Regions from separate parts of the Homo sapiens genome. Here all the other regions are reported to be linked to region 1. The links are microRNA targets in miRTarBase. Many come from high-throughput screens and were not tested one by one. Region 1 holds a microRNA gene; each other region holds the end of a gene's coding sequence. Distances are from middle to middle.

Region 1 (4,000 bases):
AGCGAGACTTCATCTCAAAAAAAAAAAAAAGCTTGCAGATTGGGAACTGATGAACCTGAAGCCCTTGCTCACTTTTATCCCCTCTGGTTGCCAATTGCCTGAAATAACATGTCTGTGACCTGGTGTTAGGGCATGTTACTGCTTATCTGTTTTGGACAAGCATAGTCATGCATTTGTTCTGTTTGGAAGAGAGAATGGGTAATAGTCAATACTTTCTCCAGCAGAAAAAGGCAAAAACCAATTTTGATTGTGGAGACATGATATAAGTGGTCCTTAGCTTGCTGGGAACTTGAAATATTTCCCTTAAAACGTGTTTTAAAGGGTAGTTGGGTTCCCAGGTGGTTTGTTCTTTCAAATGAATGAATGTTTGTTCTTTCATCTATTCCCTTTTGTCACTGCACATTAGGCTGTATATTAAAAACTAAGGATACAAAAAAGCGATCTCTTGCCAGGAAGATGTTTGAAACCATGTGGCGACATTACCATGTAAACATAGATTAAAATATAATACAGTAGATGGTAAACCAAAGCCATGAACAAAGTAAAAGGAGAGTAGATAAAGGTGTTTCTAAATGTACATTGAAGAGAAGAAAATGTACAAAAAGTAGATTCTGGCCGGGTGCAGTGGCTGACACCTGTAATCCTAGCACTTTGGGAGGCCAAGGCGGGCAGATTACGTGAGCTCAGGATTTCGAGACTAGCCTGGGCAACATAGTGAGCACTCATCTCAAAAACAAAAAAAATTTAAAAATAAAAATAAAAGTAGGTTTTTTGATTATAGCCAAACTAGTTCCATTAAGATACTTAATTCTCCCTTAAAATGTTTCTATGGAAAATGCATTTCTTTTTTTTTTTTTTTTTTTTTTGAGACGGAGTCTTGCTCTGTTGCCCAGGCTGGAGTGCAGTGGCGCCATCTCGGCTCTCTGCAACCTCTGCCTCCCAGGTTTATGCCATTCTCCTGCTCCAGCCTCCCGAGTATCTGGAACTATAGGCATCCACCACCATGCCCAGCTAATTTTTTGAATTTTTAGTAGAGACGGGGTTTCACCGTGTTAGCCAGGATGGTCTCAATCTCCTGACCTCGTGCTCCGCCCGCCTCAGCCTCCCAAAGTGCTGGGATTACAGGCGTGAGCCACTGCGCCCAGCCGGAAAATGCATTTCTAAGCCTGTTTAGTAAGTCCAGAACACACCTGTCTACCAACTCTTCTCTATGCCTAGCCCACCATAGGTGAGACTGAAATACTTTTTTTCACTTTATGTAATTTAATGCTGTTGAGATAAGGTCTCTCATAAGAGGATGTGTTTAGAGCTTTAAGGGCACTGGTCCTTTGTAGGAGAGCATACGGTGGCAATGAGAATCTAGGGGTTGTTTGTAAAAAGCAAGTGTTTTAAAACTGAGGACCACACAGTATATTGTGACAACCGCAATATATTCTTTTCTCCTTGCTGCCTAATAGTTGAGTAGTATGGAATACCTTGTGCCACTTACTTAAAGCCTTAAACTGGTCATATTGAAAACTAGACTAGAACAGGCTGGGCGCGGTGGCTCATGCCTGTAATCCCAGCACTTCAGGAGGCCGAGGCGGGCAGATCACTTGAGCTCGGGAGGTCAAGACTAGTCTGGGCAAAATGGTGAAACCCCATCTCTACCAAAAATACAAAAAATTTACTAGGCGTTGTGGCGTGTGCCTGTAGTCCCAGCTAGTCGGGAGGCTGAGGCATGAGAATTGCTTGAGCCTGGAGGCAGAGGTTGCAGTGAGCTGAGATTGCGCCACTGCCCTCCAGCCTAGGCAACAGAGTGAGACGCTGTCTCAAAAAATAACAAACAAACAAAACAACTGGTTGAGCATCCCTAATCCAAAATTCCAAAATCTGAAATGCTCCAAAATCCAAAATTCATTGGACCATTTCAGATTTTGAATTTTCAGATTAGGGATGCTCAACCAGTAATTATTATGCAAATATTCCAAAATAGGAGGAAAAAATCAGAAATCTAACTGGCAGAATGTAACCTGGTTTCCCTTGGGGTGCTTTCATGATGATTTCCATAGACTTTTTTCACCTAATTTTGTATTTTATATACCACTTTTCAGATCAGTATAAAACTTTTCCCCTTTATTTTTATTACTGATTTTAGAGAAAACTGGTTTCTGAAATACGAATATCTTGGGCTTTACAAAAATCACTAGTTTTATTTTAAATATTCCATTGCCCCTAAAAAGTTAAACAATAACCTCACTGATTTCCAAGGCTTCCAGGAGGCTGATTTGTAACTGAAAGGGCTGTGAATGATGTTTATCAGAATCAAATTTGCGCGATTTATCAGACACTAATGAGTTTTAGATTATCATAATTGCTTAGTGAATTTCTGCCATCTAACTAAAAAAAATTCTGTTTATCACCAGATCCTAGAACCCTATCAATATTGTCTCTGCTGTGTAAATAGTTCTGAGTAGTGCAATATTGCTTATAGGGTTTTGGTGTTTGGAAAGAACAATGGGCAGGCTGCAGAAAGTATGTAGCAGAAACAAGCAAAAGTCATCTTTAGGAAGAAAACAAGGAACTAGATTTCACTATAAACATTAAAATCTGAGGCTTAAATGTAAATTTTTAATTTATTAGAAGAAGGTAACTTTTCTTTTTGACAAATGGGTTTATTTGTAGTATAAAGAAATAATGGAATTTTAGTATTGAAAAGGATCTTAGATTCCAACTCATTTGATAGGAGAGACCCAAAGAAATGAGGGACTTAACCTAGGGACACATAGCTGGTTAGTGATACTAGGACTAGAATTTCTACCATGTATCCGAATTCTTTTATTTTTCTGTACCATACTACCATGTTGTGTTCAGAGGGAATTTTTAGTTGACTAGCTTTGTAACTTTAGTGATATTAATTTAAAACATAAAAAAACTTTAATTTTAGGTGAAGAATGTACATTTTTGGATGGGTGTGGTGGCTGACACCTGTAGTTCCAGCACTTTGAGAGGCTAAGGCGGGAAGATTGTTTGAGCTCAGGAGTTCAAGTCCAGCCTGGGTAACATAGCGAGACCTTGTCTCTACAAAAAAATACAAAAATTAGCTGGGTTTGGTAGTGCACGTCTGTAGTCCCAGCTACTCAGGAGGCTTAGGCAGGAGAATCAAATCTCTTGAGTCCAGGAGGTTGAGGCTGCAGTGAGCTGTGATTTGTGCCACTGCACTCGCCTGGGCAACAAAGCAAGACCCTGTCTCAAAAAGAAAAAAAAGAATTTACATTTTTTCCACATGTGTGACTCTTAATGGCTTAAATATCATCTATAACTTTGTCTAACTACATAAGAAAACAGTAATGGAAATAGAACTAGAGGCAAGTTACTTTGCTATTTTCTCATTTATAAAATGAAGGGTTCAGAGCAGACATTTAAGATGATTTTTCGGCTGGGCGTGGTAGCTCACACCTGTAATCCCAGCATTTTTGGAGGCCGAGGAGGGCGGATCACAAGGTCAGGAGATCAAGACGAGCCTGGCCAACATGGTGAAACCCTGTCTGTACTAAAAATACAAAACTTAGCTGGGTATGGTGGTGCACGCCTATAGTCCCATCCGCTCGGGAGGATGAGGCAGGAGAATCGCTTGAACCCGGGAAGTGGAGGTTGCAGTCAGCCAAGATTGTGCCACTGCACTCCAGCCTGGCAACAGAGTGAGACTCCGTCTCAAACAAAAAAAAAAAAGCTTATTTTTCTATCTTTCAACATTTTGGCATCCTTTTTGCCCCCTGCTTATTCCCTAGCCCACTGACTTCACTAATAAGCCAGTACTGGCCAGGCACAGTGGTTCACACCTGTAATCCTAGTACTTTGGGAGGCCGAGGTGGGTGGATCACCTGAGGTCAGGAGTTCGAGACCAGCCTGCCCAACATGGTGATACCCCGTCTCTACTAAAAATACAAAAAATGAGCCAGGCATGGTGGCAGGCGCCTGTAATCCCAGCTACTTGGGAGGCTGAGGCAGGAGAATCTCT
Region 2 (4,124 bases), 51 Mb from region 1:
TATATGTATACTCCATCCAGAATTCTGGGGGTGGGGTGCTTCTGTGTTCTCCAGGTGGGGGTTCTGGAGTCCATATGGGAAATCCTACACCGCTATCTCCCCTATAACTCACATGCTGCCAGCTACACGTGGAAATATGAAGGGAAGAACCTGAACATGGATTTTACCCTGGAAGAGAATGGGATCCGGGATGAGGAGGAAGAATTTGACTATCTCAGTATGGACGGTACACTTCACACACCTGCAATACTTCTGTACTTCAATGATGATCTCACGGAGTTGTAGGCAAGGAGATGTACACTCGTGTAGACTCAAGACGTATTTCGAGTTTGGCTTTTTCTGTGCCTTGAGGAAAAGTGGTGGGGCCGAGGGGTGCCTGGACCCAGATCTCCACTCCTCTCCAGGAGCTAGCCTGTGCCCTTCTGAAGTGTAAAGGCCCTATTCCCTGCCTTCATTACAGTTTGCTCTGAGAAAATTAGTGAATTAATCTTTGGGAATGATACAAGAAGATCAAGTACCTTGGTTTAGGGAGATGTAGAAGAGGATAGTCAGAGTTCAGGCAGAACTGTTTGATAGTTAAGAGAGAGTAGTTCTACAGGGGTGAGGGATGGAAGGACTTTTTTGGCAATGATGGAAATGAGATGTCTGCAGGAAGATGGGATTTACAAAGAAATAGGAAATGTTTATCATTGACCATACAAAGCTGGCTTATCTTACTTGTAGAAGAGTGTTTGGCAGCTGAAACCCAAGGGAAAGAAAGGAAGTGCGTCATTATAGGCAATTCAGGCTAGATATTATACTAGGTACTTCATATACCCTCTTTTTTTTTTTTGCCCCCAACAAAGAGAAGGGGTCTTGCTCTGTCACCCAGTCTGGAGTGCAGTGGCAAAATCATGGCTCACTGCAGCCTGGAGCTCCTGGGCACAAGTGATCCTCCCATCTCTGCCTTGAGTAGCTGGGACTTCAGGTGCACGCCACAATGCCTAATTTTTTAATTTTTTGTAGACACAGGGTCTCGCTGTGTTGCCCAGGCTGGTTTCAACCTCCTGGCCTCAAGTGATCCTCTTGCCTCAGCCTCCCAAATAGCCTCTTCAAGACAACTACCCCATAAGGTGGATTACCATTACTATGTTACAGATAAGTCCTTCGAAACTTTGGAAAGTTTAATAGCTCAAAGCCACACTAGGTAGTAACCACTAGAGCCAGAATGCAAATTCAAGTCTGCCCAACTCCAAAGTCCATGTTCTCTCAATATAAAGGGACCATCTCAATGTCTAATCTCATGTTAACATTTGTAGCCACTGCTCTCAGCAAGTATTTGGGATGTGGCTTTGTCCTAGGATCCCTGCACAATAGGAAATTGTGGTCCTATTGTATAGTTTGCAGTTATTGTCTCTGGAAGGGAGTTTGCAGAGTTCTCCTGTGGCGAAGAGGAGGCAAGGAAGGCTAAGTGTCAGTTAAGCAATAGCTATTGGGGCTACTTCTTTGTTAATCCCATACCCCAGATTTCTCTCCTGACCTTTTGGGGCAAAGAGGTGGGTATTTACTAACTTGAAGGAAAACTAGAGTGGGGAAAAGGCCGGCAAATTAGTGACACTTTGGCGAGGGAGAAAAAGGAGGCAGTTTGCCACTTGGAGAAGATGAGGAAGACAGGGTTGCAAGACGGTGACTCCAAAAGAGGGAGCTCGACAGGGGTAATGTAAACAGAGATGCTAACTAAGTCAGAAAACTCTCCTGGTGACCAAAAGAGAACCACTATTGGGGGTAATGGCTAGATTTGGTCTCCTTTAACTTAAGGAGGGGAGATTTGAGAATGACAGACAGTTGAACTTCCTGGCAGCAGCAAGCAAAAAACAAATCAGGAAGAGTTTAGTGTGTCTTCTGGCAGGGGACACCAGGGCCCAGCACAGGAGAAGGTGGCCCCTGTGAGATACTGGTGGGCTATATAGGCATTTTCTGAGGGGCTTTGGGAGGCATGAACAAAGGTGGAAACATTGCTGTTGGCTTCGGCAGTATCTGAATTTACTGTGAGATGGAGGGTTTAAATCTAACCCCATGGAATGCAGGAGTCCATGAATTATCTAAATCGATCATTTTGATCTTTAATCAACTCTGCAATTATGTGTACCTTGTTTGCTCAATTAAACCCTGAACTATTTGAGAATGAAAGCTATGCTGTTCCTCTAGTGCAAGCCTCAGGGCCTGTCCTGTGCCTACAGGATGTCCCCATTCTGCCAAAACCTGTCCCTCTTCCAGAGACTCCTACTTCAATGTCTCTTGCTAGAAACACATCCCTTTCCTCACACATCCAGTCACTCATCAAGTGTAATCTGTCTCCTAAATATCTCTGGAACCTATCTTCTTTTCTCCAAGTTACCATCACCTCTTGTCTAAACTGCTACGGAAACTTCCTAACCTGTTCTCCCATTTCCACTTCTGACTTCCATGCTGCAATGAGAGTCAGCTATGAAAAACAAACCTAAACATCGAACTTTCCTTAGCTTCTTCAGTGGCTTCCAACTGCTTTTGGAATAAAGTCCTAAATTCAAAGATCTTGTATAAATCAGGCTCATCTCGCAACACCCCTCTTTGTTCTCTATGGCCTAGACACACTGGCTTTCAGTTCATTACATGTCTTGCCTCAGACCCTCACACACTGTCCTCTCTGCCTGCAACACTCTTCCTTTCACTTTCCACCTAGCTGATCCTAAATGTTCCTTCCTCAGGGAGGTCTTTTCTGATTTCTTGGTGGGTCAAGACTTTCTGATAAATCAGTTAGCACCATGCATTTTCCAGAGTTTTTATTACAATTGTAAAATTATGGCTGTAATAGGCTGGCTGCGCTGCTAGATTGTAAGCTCACGAGGGCAGAGATCTTGTTCACATCTTGCTCACTGCTATATTCTCATTGCTGAGCACACAGTTGCAGCTCAATAAATTTTGAATGAACTCCAATGTTAAGTGAACTCATCCGTCTATACCTAGTGGGGGGGATGTTGTGTCCTAGTAGGCAAGGAAGGACCAAGAAATAGGATGTCTGGTTCCTGTGCTATAGTCTCTATCCATAGGATTCACTTTCCTTGCTTCCCCAATATCCAAAACCAAAAGTTATTCCATAGAGGGTCTCTGGCCAGGTGCAGTGACTCACGCCTGTAATCCCAGAACTTTGGGAGGCCGAGGCATGGGGATCACCTGAGGTCAGGAGTTCAAGACCAGCCTGGCCAACCTGGCAAAAGCCTGTTTCTACTAAAAATCCAAAAAATTAGCCGGGCGTGGTGGCACACACCTATAATCCCAGCTACTTGGGAGGCTGAGGCAGGAGAATCGCTTGAACCCGGGAGATGGAGGTTGCATTGAGCTGAGATAGTGCCATTGCACTCCAGCCTGGGCAACAAGAACGAAACTCCATCTAAAAAAAAAAAAAAAAAAGTTAAAAAAAAAAAAGAGGGTCTCACCAGATTTTTGGGGGCCAATCCATCTGTCATTTCCCCATATGGCCACCAGGTGGCTGTAATTACCTATAGAGTCAGGGAGACAAGCCTGGAGGGAAAACCCTTCCAAAGTTAGGATGGGAAGGTGGCCTTTGGAGATTTATAAGGGGGAGGGAAGGACAAGAAAACAAGGAAAAACCACATGGCCACCGTTCTATTAGCATTAGGTTTATGCCTGCTTTTTTTTCTCTCACAAGCACATGGCAGGAAAGGAGTGCAGTTAGGAATTCATGGGCTAGAACAAAAAGGAGGTCCTGATTACAGGTATGGGAGTGTATGGGGCAAAGTATGGAGCTGACAAAGGGATAAAGACATCACAAATTTTTAAAATAATAGAATGCATTCACTTATTAATACTTAAAAAAAATCTTTCCAGTAGGCACTGCTTTGTTCTCTAAATAGCCAAGTGGATATTTGCATGAGGAGTATGTAAATAATGCTTTAGCCTAAAACCCAGAAAGCAAACAGAACATGAGTGTAGGGTCCAAGTCCTCTTGTGGTAATCTCTTTTGTGTTAGAGGGTGGTGGGTGAAGGATGGAATGCTGAAGGGAAGGCTGCCGTCCTCAGTGAATCACAGCAGCTTCAAAGGACTCAACTGGCAAGATTTCCCACAGGTGAGGTCCCTACATGCC
Region 3 (4,124 bases), not on the chromosome of region 1:
CATCTGTTCAGTGGAGATACCAGTTCACTCGTTTGTGGGTACACCATTATCCAGCTTCTGTGGTAAGCAGAGCACTTAAGAGGAAAGGCAGGCATATGGGCCTCCGTGAGCTCACAGTGGTGGGGAGCTAGACCCTGGGTACTTCATCAGGACTATGGAGAAGAGGGTAAAGTAAAACGCCTGATGCTCAAAACTAGCAGGCGGTGGTGGCCTGATCTCGGCATACCAGGAAAGGATTTTGTGAGGAAATTGTGCTTTAGTCAAAAGAAGTTGTTCGTGAGGCAGAGGATGGGGTGATGGGAGTACTCGTAGCAGAGGGGACAACACCTGTGAATGTTCTGAGGGAAGGTGCTTGACAGCTCATGAATTCTAATCAGCTTCTAAGATATCTGCCAACTAATCTTTATCATTACATTTCAGGAAACTGGAGCACCCATCCTAACTGATGATGTTAGCCTGCAGGTGTTCATGGACCATTTGAAGAAGCTGGCTGTCTCCAGTGCCTGTTAAGCTGAGGATACAACCAGGAAATGCAACGGTGTCAGATTGTGTTCAAAATGTCTAGAAAGGCTTGATAACATTCCTGTTACTTTTCTAGCAGATTTTAACAAATAATCAAGGACATTTTATATGTAACTCTTTAGATTATAATTTATTTGTATTCCTGTCTTTGTCCTTTTTCTTGCACTATAAAATTATAAGGTCATAAATGTTTTGGTACTTGTAGATGTTTATGTGCTTTTTGTATCCTAACTTTTAGAATCTAAATAAAATCAGAGGTAATGTATTTTGGCAGCTTGTTTAGGTGAGAATCTTAATGATCATAAAGGAAATAAATCTAGATGCAGAAAGTACTGGCTAAAATATTGCTAATACAAATGTGATTTCCTGAGGTCTCTGTGTGAGTGTGTATGTGTTTTAAGTGACTTCCTTAAGAGGTGTTTCCTGAACCTAATTCTCATAATTAAAGTAATGTATATGCAGGATCAAAATGAAACAAATATACCTTATCCTAAAGAGCTCATAACAAATAAGTTACCTCCACTCTATAAACTCAGACCTACTTTTTGAAGATAACTGCTTTTAACCTCTCCTTACAAGATTTTTGTTGTTGATGTATTTAATTTTAGCCCATGTCTCAATTCTCATTTTCAAAGAATCAATATATTAATATACCTTTGGTCATTTTTGTATTTTTATTTTTATATTATCAAGATTGGTAAAATGTATATTCTGGGTCAGATACAGTGGCTCACACCTGTAATCCCAGTGCTAAATTTAGGAGGCCAATGCAGGAGACTCACTTGAGGCCAGGAGTTTAAGACCAGCCTGGGCAACATAGCGAGACTGTCTCTACAAAAAATTTTAAAAGTTACTGGGCCATGGTGGTGTGTGACTGTAGTCCTAGCTACTTGGGAGGCTAAGGCAGGAGGATCACTTGAGCCCAGGAGTTCAAGGTTGCAGTGGGCTCTCATCATGCCACTGCACTCCAGCCTGGGTGGGAGAGCAAGACCCTGTTTCAGGAAAAAAAAGAGATTATATTCTGGCCTATTATCATATTTTTTGTCACTAAGTTGATTGTCAAAGCTGAAAGCTCCTAAGAAGCATTTACACAGCCGTGATGATGTAAATATTGTTCCAGTCCAAGCCAGGTAGGATGACATTTTTCTCTAGGGTGCTAGTGTCCCAGTCAGTCCCTATGTCACTTGTAGGAAAACATTCCAAAGGACAGAATCAGAGTTACTTTCTTACATTCCATCATGCCGCATGTTGGTTTGATCCCTATTTGGATTATGATTTCTTAGATTTGCTGTGGTTTTCCCCAGAATTTCTAAATTTTGTTTGCTTTCTGAGAGAAGAAATATTTTGCTTTCTATTTACTAAGAAATTCTAGCCTATTCTACTGAATGAAGTCCATTTTTTTCTTCTTTGGAGGCCACTGATGTCCCCTTTTAAGGGGGGCCAATAACTTTGACCTACTGCACAACTGTCATCCAGGAATTTCTTCTGTTTGGAATCTCGGGTTAGTTCCACTCTTCCCTTTATTCCATAAGGCATTTTGCAATCTCAAATGACTTTTACTAAAAGGAGTACTTGGGGAGAACTCACTGCATCTTAGCATATCTGCAAATCTATTCTGTCTTCACACTTTATAGCTTTGCCAGGTAATATAGTTTGGATATTTGTCCCCTCCAAGTCCGTCATTGAAATGTAATCCCCAGGATTGGAGGTGGGGCCTGGTAGGAGGAGTTTGGGTCATACCGCTGGATCCTTCATGAATGGCTTGGTGCCATCCTCACAGAAATGAGTGAGTTCTTGTCCTGGGTTCAAATGAGGTATGATTGTTTAAAAGTGTGTTGGCTGGGCACAGTGGCTCATGCCTATAATCCCAGCACTTAGGGAGGCTGAGGCGGGCAGATCACCTGAGGTCAGGAGTTTGAGACCAGCCTGGCCAACATGGTGAAACCCCATCTCTACTAAAAATACAAAAATTAGCCGGGTGTGGTGGCTTGCGCCTGTAATCCCAGCTACTCAGGAGGCCGAGGCATGAGAATGGCTTGAACCCAGGAGGCAGAGGTTGCAGTGAGCCGAGATCGCACCACTGCACTCCCTGGGGGACAGAGCGAGACTGTCTCAAAAAAAATTTTTTTAAAGTGTTACCTCCCCCACCTCTTCCTCTCGTTCTTGCCATGTGGTACATCGGGCTACCTCTTCACCTTCTGCCCTGATTGTAAGCTTCCTGAGGCCTTCACCAGAAGCAGATGCTGGCACCATGCGTCCTGTACAGCCTACAGAACCGTAAGCCATAAGCATAAACCGTAAACCTCTTTTTAAAATAAATTACCCAGTCTCGGGTGTTCCATTACAGAGATCCAAAGACAGACTAACCCACTGGGTCTAAAAAGTATAGGCCCAAGATAATCTCAGAACTTTGGAGTCATTCTTTCATTCGTTCAACAAATAACTATCCGGTACTTGTTGTCTATGGAGTAGTCTTCTAGGCATTGGGAATACTGCCAATAAAACAAAAATTCCTGTTTTCATAGAGCTTATGTGTTAGTTAGGGAAGACCAACAATAACAATGTTAGAAGTAAATGATATGGCCGGGCGTGGTGGCTCATGCCTGTAATCCCAGCACTTTGGGAGGCCGAAGTGGGCGGATCACCTGAGGTCAGGAGTTTGAGACCAGCCTGGCCAACATGGCGAAACCCTTTCTCTATTAAAAATACAAAAATTAGCCAGGCATGGTGGTGCACACCTGTAATCCCAGCTACTTGGGAGGCTGAGGCAGGGACAAATTGTTTGAACCCAGGAGATGGAGGTTGCAGTGAGATTGTGCCACTGCACTCCAGCCTGGGCAACAGAACGAGACTCCGTCTCAAAAAAATAAAAAACAAAAAAGAAATGAAGTAAATGATACATTAGAAGGTAATGAGTGCTATGTAGGAAAATGAAGCTGGAAGCTCCTATTAATTGGATGTTGGAACAGCTGGATTGATTGCAATACTCTGTTTTGAATTTGTATTCGAATACAAGTTATTGTATTTCTTTTTGTCTCTGCCCTACATTCTAGCAGAATTCTAGCAGAGTTTCCTATCTTAAAATGTTGAACATTGGCCAGGTGCGGTGGCTCACACCTGTAATCCTAGCACTTTGGGAGGCTGAGGTGGGCAGATCACTTGAGGTCAGGAGTTCAAAACCAGCCTGGCCAACATGGTGAAACCCCATCTCTACTAAAAATATTAAAAAATTAGCCAGGAGTGGTGGTGGGCACCTGTAATCCCAGCTACTTGGGAAGCTGAGGCAGGAGAATCACTTGAACCTCGGAGGTGGAGGTTGCAGTGAGCTGAGGTCACGCCACTATACTCCAGCCTGGGTGACAGAGGGAGACTTCATCTCAAAAAAAAAAAAAAAAAAAAAAGTTGAACATTTACATTTTTCTGTGCGTTTTCCAAGAATATTTTTAGTTTTGGATATAATTTTTAACACATCATATAGAAGAATACATAAAGTTGTCTGTACAGATTAAGGCCAAAACATCCTCTTTGGCTTTTCTGTTTCAAATTAACAGAAAAAAGACTGTGTGATAGACCCAGCTAACTCTGCGGTTCTCTCTAGTGTC
Region 4 (4,124 bases), not on the chromosome of region 1:
GTGCCATGAAGTATGAGCAAGGCACGGGCTGCTGGCAGGGCCCCAACCGCTCCACCACCGTGAGTGCCTGCAAGGCAGGGGAGCTGGGGCGGGGAGACCCAGGCCTGGCCCAGCCGAACCCTCTCGAGCACCCGTCTGCCCATCCCCAGGTGCGCCTCCTGTGCGGGAAAGAGACCATGGTGACCAGCACCACAGAGCCCAGTCGCTGCGAGTACCTCATGGAGCTGATGACGCCAGCCGCCTGCCCGGAGCCACCGCCTGAAGCACCCACCGAAGACGACCATGACGAGCTCTAGCTGGATGGGCGCAGAGGTGGGCGGGGAGGTGGAGTCTCGTCGGCCTGCCCCAGCAAGGGGAGGCGGCGGGCCCTGAGGAAGATGGACCCACATGGCCACTCTATCAACCTGTGTCCCCATGTTCCCTGCTTTTTTGTTTTGTTTTTTTGAGGTGGAGTCTCACTCTTTGGCCCAGGCTGGAGTGCAGTGATGCGACCTCAGCTGACTGCAACCTCTACCTCCCGGGTTCAAACAATTGTCTTGTCTCAGCCTCCCAAGTAGCTGGGATTACAGGTGTGCACCACCATGCCTGGCTAATTTTTAGTAGAGATGGGGTTTCACCATGTTGGCCTGGATGGTCTCGAACTCCTGACCTCAGATGATCCACCTGCCTTGGCCTCCCAAAGTGCTGGGATTACAGGCATGAGCCACCACACCCGGCCATCTCCTGCCTTTTTTTTTTTGGATGGAGTTTCACTCTTGTTGCCGAGGCTGGAATGTGGAATGCAATGGCGCGATCTCGGCTCACTGCAACCTCCACCTCCTGGGTGCAAGCAATTCTCCTGCCTCAGCCTCCTGAGTAATTGGGACTACAGGCGCCGCCACCACGCCTGGCTAATTTTTTTGTATTTTTAGTAGAGATGGGGTTTCCCTGTGTTAACCAGGTTGGTCTCGATCTCCTGACCTCGTGATCCGCCCTCCTCAGCCTCCCAAAGTGCTGGGATTACAGGCTTGAGCTACCATGTCTGGCCATCCCCTGCTTTTTAAAAAAAGATTTTTTTACTTTTGAAACTAAATAGGCCAGGCGTCGTGGCTCACATCTGTAATCCCAGCACTTTGGGAGGCTGAGGTGGGCGGATCACTTGAGGTCAGGAGGTTGAGACCAGCCTGACCAACATGGTGTAAAACCCCATCTCTACTAAAAATACAAAAAAATTAGCTGGGTGTGGTGGTAGGTGCCTGTAGTTCCAGCTGCTCAAGAGGCTGAAGCACAAGAATCACTTGAACCCAGGAGGTAGAGGTTGGAGTGAGCCAAGATCATGCTACTGCACTCTCCAGCCTGGGCTACAGAGTGAGACTCTCAAAAAAAAAAAATAATAATAATAAGAGAAAATAGACAAGGTCTCCAGGCTGGTCAACTCCTGGCCTCAAATGATCCTCCCACCTCAGCCTCCCAAGCAGCCGGGACTACAGGCAAACATCACCATGTCCAGCTGTCCCCAGCTTTCTAATCTGGTCTTTCTCTTGCCCCAGAACCTCAAGAAGGCATGAAGCCAGCCCCTGCAGTGCCGTCCACCCGCCCCTCTGGGCCTGCCTGTGGCTCTGTTGCCCTCCTCTGTGGCGGCAGGACCTTTGTGGGGCTTCGTGCCCTGCTCTGGGGCCCAGGCGGGGCTGGTCCACATTCCCAGGCCCCAACAGCCTTCAAAGATGGGTAAAGGAGCTTGCCCTCCCTGGGCCCCCCACCTTGGTGACTCGCCCCACCACCCCCAGCCCTGTCCCTGCCACCCCTCCTAGTGGGGACTAGTGAATGACTTGACCTGTGACCTCAATACAATAAATGTGATCCCCCACCCAAACTTGTCTGTGTCTGCCTCGCTTTGCTGGGGTGTGGACCGGGGTGTGGGCAGGGGTTGAGCGCAGGGGACGCAGCTTTCTGCAGATCCCACCCGGGCCTCCCCCACCATCTGGGGATCACTCCTGAAGATACCAGGTGGATGGACCCTGGACCATTTCTGTCTTGAGCATCCATCCGGGCCCGTGTCCCACCTTCCCTGGGTCTCATCTGTGCTCTGTGGAGGCCAAGGGTTCCCTCCCGGGGCCAAAGCCCCTGCTGCAGACAGACCCAGGCCCAGAGAAGGACGGGGGCCTGGGCGCTACTACACAGGCTGCTCCTGCGTGCTCCCCGCGCAGCGGTGCAGAGATCACCCAAGGCCTTAAGATTCTGAACTTTTATTTTCTGGCATGAAAAGTACAAATAATTAAACAATTCCATGTAAAAGTCTGTTACCGCGGCCAGGCCTGTGATCCCGGTAATAAATAGTCTAAACGCAACGCGAAGTGTTCTTGTTGGGTTTTTTTTTTTTTTTTGTCTTTTGTTTTGTCTTTTTTTTTTTTTTTTTTTTTACAGTTTTTTATCACCTCCAACATGGACTCTGTCGTGATTTGAAACCTTCCGAATAAATAACAGGATGAAGGGAGGGGTGGAGGGGCTGAGCCCCCTCCCCCCTGGCCTGGCCCCTGCCCCCCAGGGACGTGGAAGCCCCAAGTCCCCCTCGCCTGGGAGCCCCGGCCTGGCCCCCTGCGGGGAGGGGCTGGCCTCCAGGGAGGGGGCCTGGCTGGGCTGAGTTTTGTGTTTTAGAAAAAGAAGTCCCCTCCCAGTCTTGGGGGTGGCAGGGGCCTAGGCCTCGGTGGGGGGGGGGTGTGTGGGGAGGTGCCCCCTCTCTGGAGCCTGGCCCCCCCCAGGGTGGGGGACAAACCCAGCCCTTATTGCTCGGACGCCCTGCTGCAAGCTTCCCACGCGGACGTGCGTGTTCCCGAATGCAGAGGGCGGAGGGGAGAGAGCCCCAAGAGACAGCAGGGGAGAGGGGTCCCTGCCCTGCTGCAGGGGAGAGGAGAGAGGGCAGGGAGGACTTAAAACCACGAGAATAAATAGGTTCGTGTATCAAGAACAAGCTAGGGATTTCACCAGCTAAATAGGACTGAAAAAATTCTCAAGACAAGAGCAAAAAGAATCCCATTGGTGACCTGGACGTCGCTGGCCGTGGGGACTGTCCCGCAGAGCACACGCCCCCGCGTGCCACTCGGCTACCATTACTGTTATTAATAATTATTATTACTTTAATGATTCCACTTCCCCTTTTATAAATAAATTAGGCATAACCATGTCTCGGCAAAACTTAAAGAAACAAAGAGAACATTGTCGTTCCTTTAACTTGCAAACCGGATGAAGTAACAGAAATATACACGGATGTCCTTACAGGGCAACGAGGAGAATAAATAGTTAACATAGCAATAAGTTAAAACTACAAGAAGCTAAATTCAGCAAAAAAGTACAAGAAAGTTAACTGGTGCCAGTTTATGTCTTTTTTTTTTTTCCTTTTTTTTTTTTAAATCTCTTCTGTGTGTTTTCTTTTTTTGTTGCTTTTTTTTCCTCTTCTGTTTGTGTTTTTTTGTCGCTTTTTTGATTTTTTTCTTTTTTGTTCCTTGCAGCAGAAGCTCCACAGACGTTTAATAACAACACCGGGAGGGGTGGGGGAGAGAGAGCTGGACAGTCAGATGGGGGCGCCATAGCCAGACACCAAACGTGGGGACACCGGGGGAAGGCAACTTAACTATAGCTAAAGTCGGGGGTTTTGCAATTCTCAGTTCCGATGGGGCCGCTGAGTGGGGTGGGGAGCGGTGCGAGGGCTCCCAGGGGCTCCGGCCTGTGGCTTCTGTTGGAATTTTTTTTTTTTAAAGAAAGAAAACTAGGGCGATGCAATGTCCAGACAGAAGCCGGGGGCCGGGGCTCGAGATCGGGGGCTGTGTCCACTGCAATCTGGAAAGACGAAAAACCCAACAAACCGAAAGGGGATAGGTAGGTGACAAGTGGACGGGAAAGGAGTGTGGGGCTGGGCCTTTGGGCCCATCCACCCCACCCTGGGCCTGGCGGGGAGTGCCGGGGTCTTGCTGCCGGGGAGGCCCAGTCCTGGTGGGGGAGGCTCAGGGCTGGGCCTCTCCCTCAGCTGTGTGGGCCAAGGCCTCGGCCCAGGGGGAGGCTGAGCCCCGGGGACAGGGGTGTCCTTTGGCCTCAAGTGTTGTGGGGGGGGGGGCTGCCTCCAGCCCACCGTGACGCCAAGGTGGAACGAG

The links. Region 1 holds the annotated microRNA hsa-miR-454-3p (UAGUGCAAUAUUGCUUAUAGGGU, at 2,454-2,476, shown strand). A microRNA usually pairs through its seed, bases 2 to 8, with sites in the 3' UTR of a target mRNA and lowers its output. Matches are read on the target gene's strand: a 7mer-m8 pairs with bases 2 to 8, a 7mer-A1 pairs with bases 2 to 7 and ends in A, and an 8mer does both.
Region 2: miRTarBase lists CYB5D1 as a target of hsa-miR-454-3p. The part of its 3' UTR that is shown has no 7-base or 8-base seed match.
Region 3: the mRNA of SEC23B is a reported target of hsa-miR-454-3p. Seed matches in the 3' UTR shown: 8mer at 683-690.
Region 4: the mRNA of PRKCSH is a reported target of hsa-miR-454-3p. The part of its 3' UTR that is shown has no 7-base or 8-base seed match.

What each region holds. Positions count from the first base shown.
Region 1 is chr17:59,136,263-59,140,262 of GRCh38, reverse strand. MIR454 (microRNA 454) reads left to right here and starts at 2,391; the gene lies at 2,391-2,505. All of the region lies in intron 1 of SKA2 (spindle and kinetochore associated complex subunit 2), which reads left to right.
Region 2 is chr17:7,859,328-7,863,451 of GRCh38, forward strand. CYB5D1 (cytochrome b5 domain containing 1) reads left to right here. Exons shown (of 4, transcript NM_144607.6): 4 at 55-2,955. The coding sequence ends at 285. It also overlaps a transcript of NAA38 not described here. Among named protein-coding and RNA genes, the nearest start is that of CYB5D1, 3.4 kb to the left of the region's middle.
Region 3 is chr20:18,560,231-18,564,354 of GRCh38, forward strand. It overlaps SEC23B (SEC23 homolog B, COPII component), which reads left to right. Exons shown (of 20, transcript NM_006363.6): 20 at 421-1,185. The coding sequence ends at 510. Among named protein-coding and RNA genes, the nearest start is that of SMIM26, 5.1 kb to the right of the region's middle.
Region 4 is chr19:11,449,117-11,453,240 of GRCh38, forward strand. It overlaps PRKCSH (PRKCSH beta subunit of glucosidase II), which reads left to right. Exons shown (of 18, transcript NM_001289104.2): 16 at 1-59; 17 at 150-312; 18 at 1,530-1,852. The coding sequence ends at 296. ELAVL3 (ELAV like RNA binding protein 3) reads right to left here. Exons shown (of 7, transcript NM_001420.4): 7 at 2,210-4,124. Among named protein-coding and RNA genes, the nearest start is that of PRKCSH, 16 kb to the left of the region's middle. RefSeq lists enhancers at 2,996-3,045, 3,076-3,195, 3,120-3,890.